2 linked regions of the Homo sapiens genome follow. The protein of the gene in region 1 purifies or fractionates together with the protein of each later gene. This does not show direct contact. Each region holds a gene or a part of one and is shown on either strand. Other genes may lie near its edges.

Region 1 (7,496 bases):
TTGGCAGAAAGCCTGTGGTCTTCCCCAAACATGGAAAGATGGGAACCTTGTGAGGAGCTGCAACAAGGTCACTTCTCACCCCCCTTCCCATCTTTCGTGGAGGCTGTCATGAGACAGCTGTCATAACTGTGTCATCATCTCCTGGGTTCTGAAGAGGTATGAGGCTTTTTGCCTCACTCACCCCCACCCCGTAGGGTACACAGGCTATGAAACAGCTATGGCAGCATGGACTGGCTCCTCAGCCACTGCCCATGTTGTGTTGTCACTCGCCCTCTTTTCTGTGCTGTCTTGTGGGGCAAGGGATGGGAAAAGCTGACACTTTTGCCGATCTTGAACTTGCTAGCTATGTGAGTAATAAACTCTCTGGCTCTAAAAAGGGTTTGTTGTTTCCTTGCCAGCCACATTTGTCAGCCAGCTTGACAAACCCACTACTTGGGCAGATGTCACCTGGCCCAGTACAAGAAAATGCTGATGCTCTGGCTACTGCTATTTCTGTGATTAATAAAGCTCTTTGTCTCTGGCTCGGGAGTTTCAGGTTTTCTGCCAGCATCTATAAACCTGGGGCAAGTAGGGGCAAATCTCAGACGCATCACAGTTCTTGCCACCACCATAAGCATCACCAGGAACACTGCATTCTCTCTGTGTTCAGAAGACTTTGTGACTGGAATGGGACACAAAAGCCTCAAAATTCCCACTAGAAACCTCCTTGAGTAGGAGCTGGGGGCAGAACAGGCTCCATATGGATATGTCCCTCCTGATTTCCATGACTGGGCTCTGTTGAGCTAAAAAGTGGCTTCAAAGAGAGAATGCTGAGTTGGTTCATTACTCACCACCTGCACTATGGCAGCGTTCCTTGATTTCTTTGCAGCTTCTAGGCAGGGAAGAAAAGGAGAAGGCACAGGTTTCGAATTCCCTCGAGAGCATCTCAAGAGAAGAGGCTGCTGCTAGAAAATGTGAGAATGAGTCTCATTAGAAGTCTGACCACTGAGGCCATCTTTCCTGGCCAATCTCTGCCCCTGTATCAACTCATCACTCTGCTCTGAAGTCCCAGGAGGTCAGGGATTCCCTATGCTAAGACGGTCTGATCCAACAGCTGGTATAGGTTAAACACCTGGAATCTTCCACTCGACTAATTTTAATTAAATACCTACTGTGTGAACTACCTAGACACCGGACAAAGACAATTTGACACATTTCTTCAAGAGACTACATTCTACAAGGAAGGAGCACATGGAAAGGGACCCAACTGAGATGGGAGGGCAAACCCACTAACGGGGGTGAGGCCTGGGAACTGCTGGGGAAGGGACCAGCTGTAACTCAGAGCAGGCTGATTTTGATGGGAGAATGGGAGCTGGCTACAGGACAGGAAGGAAAGGGGAGAGTACACCCCAGGAAGAGAAGAAAGCACATGAGATGGCCTGAAGCAATAACAGAGCCCAGCCCAGCCCAGCCTGCCAAAAACTACAGGTCAGTCGCTTATTGTGGCTGGAACATATGTTGTAATACAAAGAAGTCTGGAAACCAAAGCTGAAAAATTAACAGAGGCCAGTGGATGAAGGGCCATGTATATAAGTCTAAAAGCCTAGAAATCATTCCAAAAGCCTGGCAGAGCGGGAAAAAGTGTAAAATTACAGGACTCAGGCCAGGCACAGTGGCTCATGCCGGTAATCCCAGCACTTTCGGAGGCCGAGGAGGGTGGATCACAAGATCAGGAGTTCAAGAACAGCCTGGTCAATATGGTGAAACCCCATCTCTACTAAAAATACAAAAATTAGCTGGGGTGTGGTGGTGCACACCTGTAATCCCAGCTACTGGGGAGGCTGAGGCAGGAGAAGCTCTTTAACCCAGGAGACGGAGGTTGCAGTGAGCCGACATCACGCCACCGCACTCCAACCTGGGCAACAGAGCAAGACTCCGTCTAAAAAAAAAAAAATTACAGGACTCAAGGTAAAATCCAGACAAACCCTGATGACAGTGCCTCCTTGAGCAGACACTTAACATCTCTGATCCTTTTTCTTCATCTTTAAGATGTCATTAATAACTTCTTTATACGCATGGAGATCAAATGAGATGACATATGTAAATGTGCTTTTTTTAACTGATGGATTGAAATAAACAATAAACCCAGTATCAATGAAAAAATATCACTATTGTGCCTACTGGAAGAATAGAATTGTGAGGATTCTATTCTCACAATATCCTCCTCTGCGACTAGAGGAGGGTGTACCCTGGACACAGCACTGATCACCCAGCTGCCTCTGGAGATCCCAAGGCCAAGGCCACAAGAGCAGCTGAGCAGGGACACAGTTCTTACTCTCTCACCCCATGAACCCCTCACAGCCACAGAAGCAGAGAATCAAGCCCTAGGAAATACCTGAGCTAACACCCTGACTGCTTCAGACCAGACCCCAGGAGAGGCCAGAAATCAGCACCCAGTCCACACCTCAAGTTGGCTGCCTAGCCTGGGTTCCCTGCCTCTCCAGAACTTCCCCTTTGACCCTTGACTTCAGAGCCCTGCCCAGCTCTACTCCCTCCAGGCCCTGCACAGCAGAGGGGAGCCCAGGAAACTGCAGCTCCTACTCTCAGAAGCCATTTACCTGCACTGCACCCACTGGTGGCCACAGAGAAGAATAACAGGAAGCAGAGTCTGGTCATTGTCCTCTAAGGAAAAACAAGATGCACAAGGTCACTGGCTGGCCCTTCCTTTGTCATCCTCTCGTTCTTACTTCCTAACCTTTCTGAGTCAGGAATCCTCAAATGGAAAGTGATGGGCTCATGAGCATTCTAAAACCTCCTGGAATATGCCCCACGGCTGTCCAACACTACAAATACCCAAGGGGCCATGGGCTCATTTCCCTGAAACTCTAAATCTCTAAAACTGAGACCTGAGCTGGCATCATTGCTCCCACACACATGGATCAAAAACATTTTTCTCACCAGCATGGACAGCATCCTTACAGATGCCAGGAGCTGATAGTTCCCTTCCTGTGGACACTCGGAGCTCCCCTGCAGAGGATCCTGATGAAGGGTGAAGTGCTGGTCCCTTTATGTGGAGAGCTGTGGAGAGCCAAACCACCTGAGCCCTGCCCAGCCCAACCCTGAGCAGCCTAGGCTGCTAGCCCCTCCCTCTGAAGCCCTTCCCTCTGAGGGTACCTGAGCCTGGGACCGTGGAAATGAGAAAGGACGTGCGACTGGCTGGAGGAGCAGGGAGCTGTGTTCCTGGCCACACAGGTGACTGTCGCCATCTGAGGAGGGGCATCCTGCTTTGCCAAGGCAGGCCATACAATGTAGCAGTATCTAATCAGATTCGTGGATAGGTCACAATCCTCCCCTGCGTTCTCCCTCTCCCACCTCCCCCAGATGCCCTGGCCCCCTAGACACAACTCTGTCAAGAAATCATCCTTTTAGACTGAGGTGACACCTCATGAAAAATAAATTAATTAATTAAGAATAATAATTGGCCAGGCACAGTGGCTCACACCTATAATCATAGCGCTTTGGGAGGCCGAGGTGGGCGGATTACCTGAGGTCAGGAGTTCAAGACCAGCCAACATGGTGCAACCCTGTCTCTACTAAAAATACAAAAATTTAGCTGGGTGCAGTGGCGTGCACCCGTAATCCCAGCTACTCTGGAGGCTGAGACAGGAGAACTGCTTGAACCCAGGAGGTGGAGGTTGCAGTGAGCCAAGACTGCTCCACTGCACTCCAGCCTGGGCAACAGAGCAAGACTTCACCTCAAAATAATAATAATAATAATAATAATAAATAAATGGGAAAAGAAGACATCATCCTTCCAATCTTTCCTCCAATTTCTCTATGAGGCCTTCCCTGACACCCCCATCACCAGACAAAGCTGATGGATCCTTCCTTTGTCCCACTATACACTGTCCAAACACTAATTATTGCATGTATCCTGCTGTAATTTTATTGTTTTATTAACTCTGTTTAGAAACAATTTGAAATTTATTAAATGTTGCAAAAATAACAATAATATAAAGCCACATATATGCCCTTTACCTAGATTCAACTATTGTTAATATTTCACCCCATTTGCTTTATCTTTCGTGTTCTCTCTCTCTCTCTCTATATATATATAGATATATGTATATAAAATACACCCACACACACAAAATTTTTTTCTGAACCATTTGAAGGTAAGGTACATACATCATGGGCTTTTACCTTTAAATAAATGCGTATGGGTTTTTTTTATTTTGTTTTGTTTTTTGACACAGAGCCTCACTCTGTCACCCAGGTTGGAGTGCAATGGCATGGTCTCAGCTTACTGCAACCCCCGCCTCCCAGGTTCAAGTGATTCTCCTGTCTCAGCCTCCCGAGTAACTGGGATTACAGGCACCCACCACCACGCCCAGCTAATTTTTGTATTTTTAGTAGATACGGGGTTTTGCCATCTTGGCCAGGCTGGTCTTGAACTCGTGACCTCGTGATCCACCTGCCTCGGCCTCCCAAGTGCTGGGATTATAGGTGTAAGCCACCATGCCTGGCCAACTGTGTGTTTTCTAATAATAGGAATATGTCATGTATAACCACAGTACAATTATCAACATCATATTATTAAAAACTCTTTTTTTGGGCTGGGCGCGGTGGCTCACGCCTGTAATCCCAGCACTTTGGGAGGCCGAGGTGGGTGGATCATCTGAGGTCAAAAGATCGAGACCAGCCTGACCAACATGGAGAAACCCGGTCTCTACTAAAAATACAAAATTAGCCGGTCGTGGTGGTGCATGCCTGTAATCCCAGCTACTCAGGAGGCTGAGGCAGGAGAATCACCTGAATCCAGGAGGCGGAGGTTGCAGTGAGCCGAGATCACACCATTGCACTCCAGCCTGGGCAACAAGAGTGAAACTCCATCTCAAAAAAAACAAAAAACAAAAAAAACTCTTTTCTTTTCTGTAGAAACGGGGTCTCCCCATGTTACCCAGGCTACTCCAGAACTCCTGACCTTGATCCTCCTGCCTCAGCTTGCCCAAGTGCTAGGATTACGGGCGTGAACCACCGAGCCAGCCTGTTAACTCTTTTTAACATAACTGATACTTCCCTAGAGTATCATCAGCCCAGGGGTCATGGTGAGTTAGCATTAATGAGACAGGAATTTCTCTGGCTTTCATGCCCTCCCATTGTAAGGAGACTTCTGGTCCCCTTTTAAGTCCATAATCCCAAGGGGCATCTTGTGTGTGCTAACAAACATTTCTCCATTCCACACATACTCCCAGCCCACCCTGACTCCTTTCAGCACTGCCTACTGAAACCACAGTAGGCACACACCACAGCTGAACACCAACCGTATGATTTGGCATCCCTGCTGCCTCTGATGCTGGATCTGGTGTCGGGACAAGTTGCTGGTGTTTAAGGCACTGCTTCCTCTCACTCCCAGGCCTCCGGCACATCTCTTGCTATTCAAGGCATGGAAGTCATCCACCTCATAGGGTGCTGGAGAAGGGAAACGCCTCACTGCTCCCATGATGGGCACCAGACCAGGACATGTCTCCAGGTGTCTCAGTGACCTCAGTGACACTGTTCTTTCAGTGTCTCTTGCAGTCTGTCTCTCTCTTGGACTCAGACAGGAATCTAAGGAGACGAGGATAGAGGACAAACCTGGAAGATGTCATACTACTCTGATGGACCTTTGTCTCTGAATACTAAGATACTATTATTGGAAAGATTTTGTAAGCTCCTTCTCCTGAAACTTTTGAATTTTTTTATTTGAGTATTTATATAGGTATTTGCTTAATACCTGTCTCCTTCTTTATAGAGACAGAATCTATGTCTGTGGTTGTCCACCAGATGTCCAGGCCTATGCACAATGCCTGGCACACAGTGGGCCTTCAATATGCATTAGTTGAATGAAAGAAATTGACTCCAGGTGGTACTAAAAAACACACATGAACGCTTCCTCCAATCCAAAAAAATTTTAGGAATGAAAATGGCCAATGCAAAATTTTACAGTTTTCTCCCCTTTGTTGTAATTACTCTAAGCCATGTTTCCACCATCAAATACTCAATAAAAGTTAGAATGCATGCAACAGCTTGGTGTTTACCAATGCTTTGGAGGAAAAAAGGAAGAGATGTGGTGTCCTGTTTGGGAAAGAACAACAGGACAAAGGAAACCAGACAAAAACAATGGCATCCCCAAACAGATGGATGATAAGGAATAGATGAGAGCCCAGGAACTGGCTGAAATGCAGAAACACACAGGAGAAAAATAGGTCTCCTTGGCACTCTTCAGTTGAATTGGGTAATTTTCTACAGTAGATTTTTCCCGCAGTACCAGAACTACTGGGAATGGCAATGAAAACGTAGCTGGAAGAAAGGGGACCTGAGGCTTCCATTACATATTCATAAATGTTTATTATCCACTTAGTACCTTTCTTTGTAAATTCTGGATTTTTTTTTTAAGACAAAGTCTCACTCTGTTGCCCAAGCTGGAGTGCAGTGGCATGATCTTGGCTTACTGCTACCTCCACCTCCCGAGTTCAAACGATTCTCCTGCCTCAGCCTCCTGAGTAGCTAGGACTACAGGCACGCACCACCATGCCCAGCTAATTTTTGTATTTTTAGTAGAGACGGGGTTTCACTATGTTGGCCAGGCTGGTCTTGAACTCCTGACCTCATGATCCACCTGCCTCAGCCTCCCAAAGTGCTGGCATTACAGGCATGAGCCACCAAGCCCGGCCAATTCTGGATATTTTAAATTTCATTTTTAATACCTCTGGCATTAATTTTCATGTAAATCTGAGGTGAACATCTAAATTGATCTTTCTTCATCTTGCAAATTTTTTTTTCCCAACATTGTTTATGGATTGTTTTCCATCATAATTTTTTTTTTTTTTTGAGATGGAGTTTCGCTCTGGTTGCCCGGACTAGAGTGCAATGTAACGATCTCCGCTCACTGCAACCTCTGCTTCCCAGGTTCAAGCGATTCTCCTGCCTCAGCCTCCCAAGTAGCTGGGATTACAGGTATGTGCCACCACGCCTGGCTAATTTTGTATTTTTAGTAGAGACAGGGTTTCACTATTTTGGTCAGGCTGACCTCAAACTCCTGACCTCAGGTGACCCACCCACCTCAGCCTCCCAAAGTGCTGGGATTACAGGGATGAGCCACTCCACCCCGCCTTTCATCACAATTAGTGCCTTTAGTAGGCATTAAATGAGTTCTTACTTAGGGTCGATTCATCTATTTTTGTACGAGTACTATGTCGTTTAAATTATTACAGCTTAACAACATATTGTGATTCCAAGAAGGCTAATGCCTACATTTACACGTACATATAAAATAGTTGTTTATCAAATGCAAAACCTTATTAAGTGTTTCTTTGGGCCAGGCGCAGTGGCTCACAACTGTAATCCCAGCACTTTGAGAAGCTGAGGTAGGAGGATGACTTGAGCCCAGGAGTTCCAGAACAGCCTGGGCAGCATAGTGAAACCCTGTCTCTAAAAAAAAAAAAAATTAGCCAGGTGTGGAGATTTGCACCTGT
Region 2 (4,841 bases), on another chromosome or scaffold:
AGCGTCTGACCAAACACACCAAGTTCGTGCGGGACATGATTCGGGAGGTGTGTGGCTTTGCCCCGTACGAGCGGCGCGCCATGGAGTTACTGAAGGTCTCCAAGGACAAACGGGCCCTCAAATTTATCAAGAAAAGGGTAGGTGGGCGCTGCCGGCCGAGGGGCGGGGTGGGATGGGAGTCAGGGCCGGGCTGACGGCGGCCTCGTCCCTGGCAGGTGGGGACGCACATCCGCGCCAAGAGGAAGCGGGAGGAGCTGAGCAACGTACTGGCCGCCATGAGGAAAGCTGCTGCCAAGAAAGACTGAGCCCCTCCCCTGCCCTCTCCCTGAAATAAAGAACAGCTTGACAGAAGCCCTGGCTCTCCTGCTGTCCGTGGGTGGGTGTGGGTGTGTCGGGGGCCCGCAGTCCCCTGTCTGGTGCCCGCTCTGAGCCACACCCTCTCCGGGTGCTGCCTGGTCGTGAATCAAAAGCCGTGGCCCGCCCACCCTTCCCGGGGCAGCAGGTGAGGAAGCCGCCGTACTGCAAATGACTTTAATCATTAAATAGCTTCTATGCCACACTCTGATTAAGCCGACTGAGGTCCCTGGGATCTGGGTCACTGGACCGAGCTGCTCGCTCGGTGGCTCCACTGCCAGGTCCGGGCGCGCTCCCCACAGCGCTCAGTTCTGGCCCAGACAGGGCCTGACATCCGCCGCCTGCAGTCCCGGGGTGGCCGTCACCGTTCCACGGCCAGCGCCTCTGCCTGCTCGTCCGGGAAGGCGATGTCGAAGATCTCCCGGTAGTGTTCCACGAAGTGCACCTCCAGGCCCTCGGTGATGAAGGCTGCCAGGTCGTAGAAGTCCTTCTTGTTCTCGGCTGGCAGGACGATGCACGTCACCCCTGCGCGCTTGGCCTGGGGGCAGAGTCAGGGTCAGCCCTGCCTGGGCCTGTGGGAGGGCAGCAGGTGTGCTAACCTCCAGGAACGAAAGGGCTTCCTGGGGACCGGCGATACACAGTGATGCCGGGTTCTAAGCAGTAAGTCCCAAAACCCACCAGGGTCCCCGTCTCCCACGGGGAAACAGGCTCAAGGCAAAACCACTGGCCTTGGCTCCAACAGCCTGAGAGCAGGAGCCAGGGCCTCCCCACCCCCTTATCTAGGAAGTCTGGCCGTGCGGTGGGAGCAGTCTCAGGGCTCTGGATGAGCCACACACCCACGGCCTCACATCCAGAGGTCAGGCAGTGTCTGGGGCCTGAACAGGGTTCCTGTGAGCATCTGCATCTCTGCCCCCAGGCCCTGCGTCACCCCCCTCACCTCCGGAGGCTACACATATCTGGAGTAGATGCCAGGCACAGCCCCACCACAGCCCCTTGAAAGGACAGCAGTTCCCACTGTCACCGCACACTGACTCCATGGACAGTGAGCCTCCCAATTTGCCTCCACCATTTTATCATCTAGGAAGTCTGTGCCTGGTGTCCAATTCAAGGTGGTCACAGCCACTTGACCATGCCTCCCTCGTGGTGGCATCTCCTGACTGACTGCACCAGGCTTCCTAGACACATGGCAAGTGTGGTCCAGTCTGGGGACAGGCAGGGATGGGAGGGAAGAGTGGGGACAGTGGCGCTCCAACCTGCTCAGCACCCTTGGAAGAGGCCAGCCCCTGGCCAGGGGCTCCAAACACCCCCGCCACCAGTAATCCTAAACGTCGTCCCCATCTCTAGCCTCTCCCTTGGCGCTGGGCTGCCTGGGAAGAGAAGCAGGAGCCACCCCCCCAATCCTACTGGGGAAGCCAGTGGAGGCTCAGAATGTTCTCCACAAGACTTGCTGTGGAGAAGGCAGCTAGGGCGGTGAGCTTAAGGCCAGCTCCAGGCCAGAGAGACCTGCTTCCAAAGCCCAGGGCTTCCCTCTCCTTGGCCCAGGCAGAGGTTGCATGGCGGGGACTGGGCCTGTCCCGTGGTGGTGTGGGCCCTGCCAGTGCTGTGGGGTGGGTACAGGGACACTCACCGCAATGGTCTTCTCCTTGATGCCACCAACAGGCAGGATCTTGCCCGTGAGGGAGACTTCGCCAGTCATGGCCAGATTCTGCCGGACAGGCCTGCCCATGGCCAGGGACAGCAGGGCCGTGACGATGGTGCAGCCTGCGCTTGGGCCGTCCTTGGGGGTGGCGCCCTGTGGAGGCATGTGGGGATAGTGGGTGAGCAGGTGGCCAGCAGCCCAGGGACTGGGCGGGAGCAGGTGGGAGCGGATGGCGCGGTCACCTCGGGCACATGCAGGTGGATGTGTGAGGTCACCAGGTAGTCATTGGCGGGGGCGTGCTGCATGAGGAAGGCTCTGGCGAAGGTGTAGGCTATGCGGGCGCTCTCCTTCATCACCTCCCCCAGCTGGCCTGTCACCTCCAGGCTGCCATCCTTGTCACCCTTGGCATCCTTGTCCTGTGGCCGTCTCAGGGATGTCTCCACAAACAGCGTGGAGCCTCCTGAAACAGGTGTGGAGCTGTGAACACGGGAGGCCTCGGAGCCCAGGCCGGTGCTCACTCCACCCCTCGGGGCCACTCTGACCGCTCCTGCCCCAGTTTAGCATCTTGGTGCCCCTGGGCAGGGGTTGGTGTCCCATCGTGAGCCAACGCTGGCCTCTACGTTTGCTGCGTTGCGGGTTCCTGGCTCTGTACGCCCCACAGGGCAGCCCCCAGCAGCTGCCAGCCACAGAGGACACGCCCAGGGCTACAAGGCCCAGCTGCCGCTGCCCTGCAGACAGACACAAGCCCTTCTCCAGCCCCTCCCGCACCATCCCCTTTGCCCTCTCGCCTCCTTTGTGCGTGGTGGCCCCAAGGCCCATCTGGATGAGCTTGTCCTTACCTGTAAGCCTATCAAAGTGGCACCCAAATCCATAAGGCCCATGGTGTGCTGCCACCCCCATGTGTCACAGCCTTCCCCTCCCTCAGCCCAGACCCCCTGGGCTCCCAGCACACCACCCCCCGCCAGAGGCCGTTCAGAGCCACCTGAGGCCCACTGCACAGGTGTACAAGGTGGGACCTGCTTGTTCTCGGGTAGAAATGGGAATGGCTTTGGGGTCTTCTCCCGCCACCACGCTCACCCATTGCGGTCCAGGCCAGCCCCATGACCACGCCGGGCGGTGTCACGTCATACATGCGCTCCACGGTGAACACGGGCTTCCCCACGAAGTCCTGCAGGTTCTCGGGCGTCACCTCCACGGACTCGGCCTCGCCGCTGACAATCTTGTAGGCCGATTTCCGTAACACCTGGGCGGTCAGGGCAACACAATGGGCACGGGAAGGTGGGGTGACAGGTGCGGGGTGGTGGGGTGACGGGCACAGAAAGGTGTGACGGGCGCGGGGTGGTGGGGTGATGGGCGCAGGAAAGTGGGATGATGGGCATGGAAAGGTGGGGTGATCAGCGTGGGATGGTGAGGTGGGCGGCAGGTGCCAGGAGGGCGGGCTGGCCGCTCACCTTCTCCACTTGCTTCTGCAGGTTGCGGACACCGCTCTCGCGGCAGTACTGCTTGATGAGCAGCGTCAGCACGTCCGATGACAGCTTGGCCTTGCTCTCATCCAAGCCACACAGGGCGCGAGCCTGGGGCACCAGGTAGCGCTGCAAGGGCAACCGTCAGGGTTGGGTCTGGAGGGACCTTGCCCACCAGCTCAGTCTAGAACCTGGGAGCCAATGCCTCTCCCATGGCCCCCAGACCCTGGCCTGGGAACGAGGTCCCTGATGGTGAAACCAGGGCCTGGACACCCCGCCCTGCCACCCACCATGCCCAGAGGCCCCAGGCCTTTGCTTGTGCTGCGTCCTCTGCTTGGATCCACTTCCTATCCCCCAATGGTATCTTAGATGCCGCTTCCTCCAGGAAGGCCTCCTGGTTGCCCCATGGGCTGGCCCCATACACAGACCCAGGGCCTGTAGGGTGGCTGACTGGTTACGTGGCTGCTGCCCTCAGCACATGAGGAAGGGGACTGGGTCAGGGGCTCCAGGGTCACCCACAGCCCCACACAATTCTTGCCACAGTTCTGAGCTCTAATGGCATGGGGGAGGGCATCTGTGAGACGGACAGAGCCATGCAAGCCACTCTACATCTGCCACTGATACTGGGGGGCACTCCTGATGCCCTGAGGGGTCCCCATGCCCCCCAGTCCTGTCCCCAGGAACTACAGGCCCGTCCCTTGGAGAAGTCAGGCTGGGAACTGGGCCCAGCAGTGGGCATTGAAGCCCCCAGGGGACACGAGGATGCTGGGAGGGCCTCAAGGGCAGGGACCAGTGCCCACCACTGGCTGTCAAAGGGCTCCTAGGGGAGAAATGCACTCAGCACCTTTGCAGAAAAAAAAACACATGAGAAATATGGGCCCCTGCATGCTCCTCACTGAAACCACTTCTCCTCCAAGCCTCATTCTGGGTGGGAGCCACAGGCCCCACTGCTTCCGGCTGCCAGAAACCTTCCCTACACTCTGGGCCAGGTGGGGGCCCCACCATGGGGCAGCCTGGAGGCCCCGGGAGACAGAGTGTGTGGCCTGACGGTGGTGGGCGGTGTTTTGGACAGTCCCAGGCCCTAAACCCTGCGCCCACTCGCGCCACCTGCAGCTGCTCGCAAGCGTCTGGTGTGTCTCTCACGGCCCCATCTGCTCCTCGGCCGCAGGTCCCACCTGTCTCTCCCGGGCCCAGGAGCTCCCAGAGGCACGGCCTCTGCAGGCTCTGGGGGGCGCCCCCTGCTCTGGGAAGGGGACAGCAGTGGGGAGGGGCTGGGCTTACCTCCGCAATGGCCAGCTTCTCCTGGGCCACGTAGCCCGACACGTTGATCATCTCCATACGGTCTCGCAGCGGCTCGGGGATGGTGTCCGTGACGTTGGCCGTGC

The links. The genes of interacting proteins can lie anywhere in the genome.
Region 2: the proteins of ITLN2 (region 1) and LONP1 purify together in Homo sapiens (co-immunoprecipitation; 2 studies listed by BioGRID and IntAct, with this or other methods). This does not show direct contact.

The regions. Positions count from the first base shown.
Region 1 is NC_000001.11:160,951,790-160,959,285, forward strand, and holds the start of ITLN2 (intelectin-2 precursor), read right to left. Parts: upstream 3,021-7,496; 5' UTR 2,953-3,020; coding exon 2,938-2,952; intron 2,662-2,937; coding exon 2,598-2,661; intron 945-2,597; coding exon 831-944; intron 1-830.
Region 2 is NC_000019.10:5,691,317-5,696,157, forward strand, and holds the end of LONP1 (lon protease homolog, mitochondrial isoform 1 precursor), read right to left. Parts: coding exon 4,738-4,841; intron 3,586-4,737; coding exon 3,445-3,585; intron 3,237-3,444; coding exon 3,071-3,236; intron 2,454-3,070; coding exon 2,236-2,453; intron 2,147-2,235; coding exon 1,982-2,146; intron 893-1,981; coding exon 716-892; 3' UTR 518-715; downstream 1-517. Other genes in the region: RPL36 (large ribosomal subunit protein eL36), read left to right, coding at 3-137, 216-305. UniProt on the Homo sapiens protein: ATP-dependent serine protease that mediates the selective degradation of misfolded, unassembled or oxidatively damaged polypeptides as well as certain short-lived regulatory proteins in the mitochondrial matrix.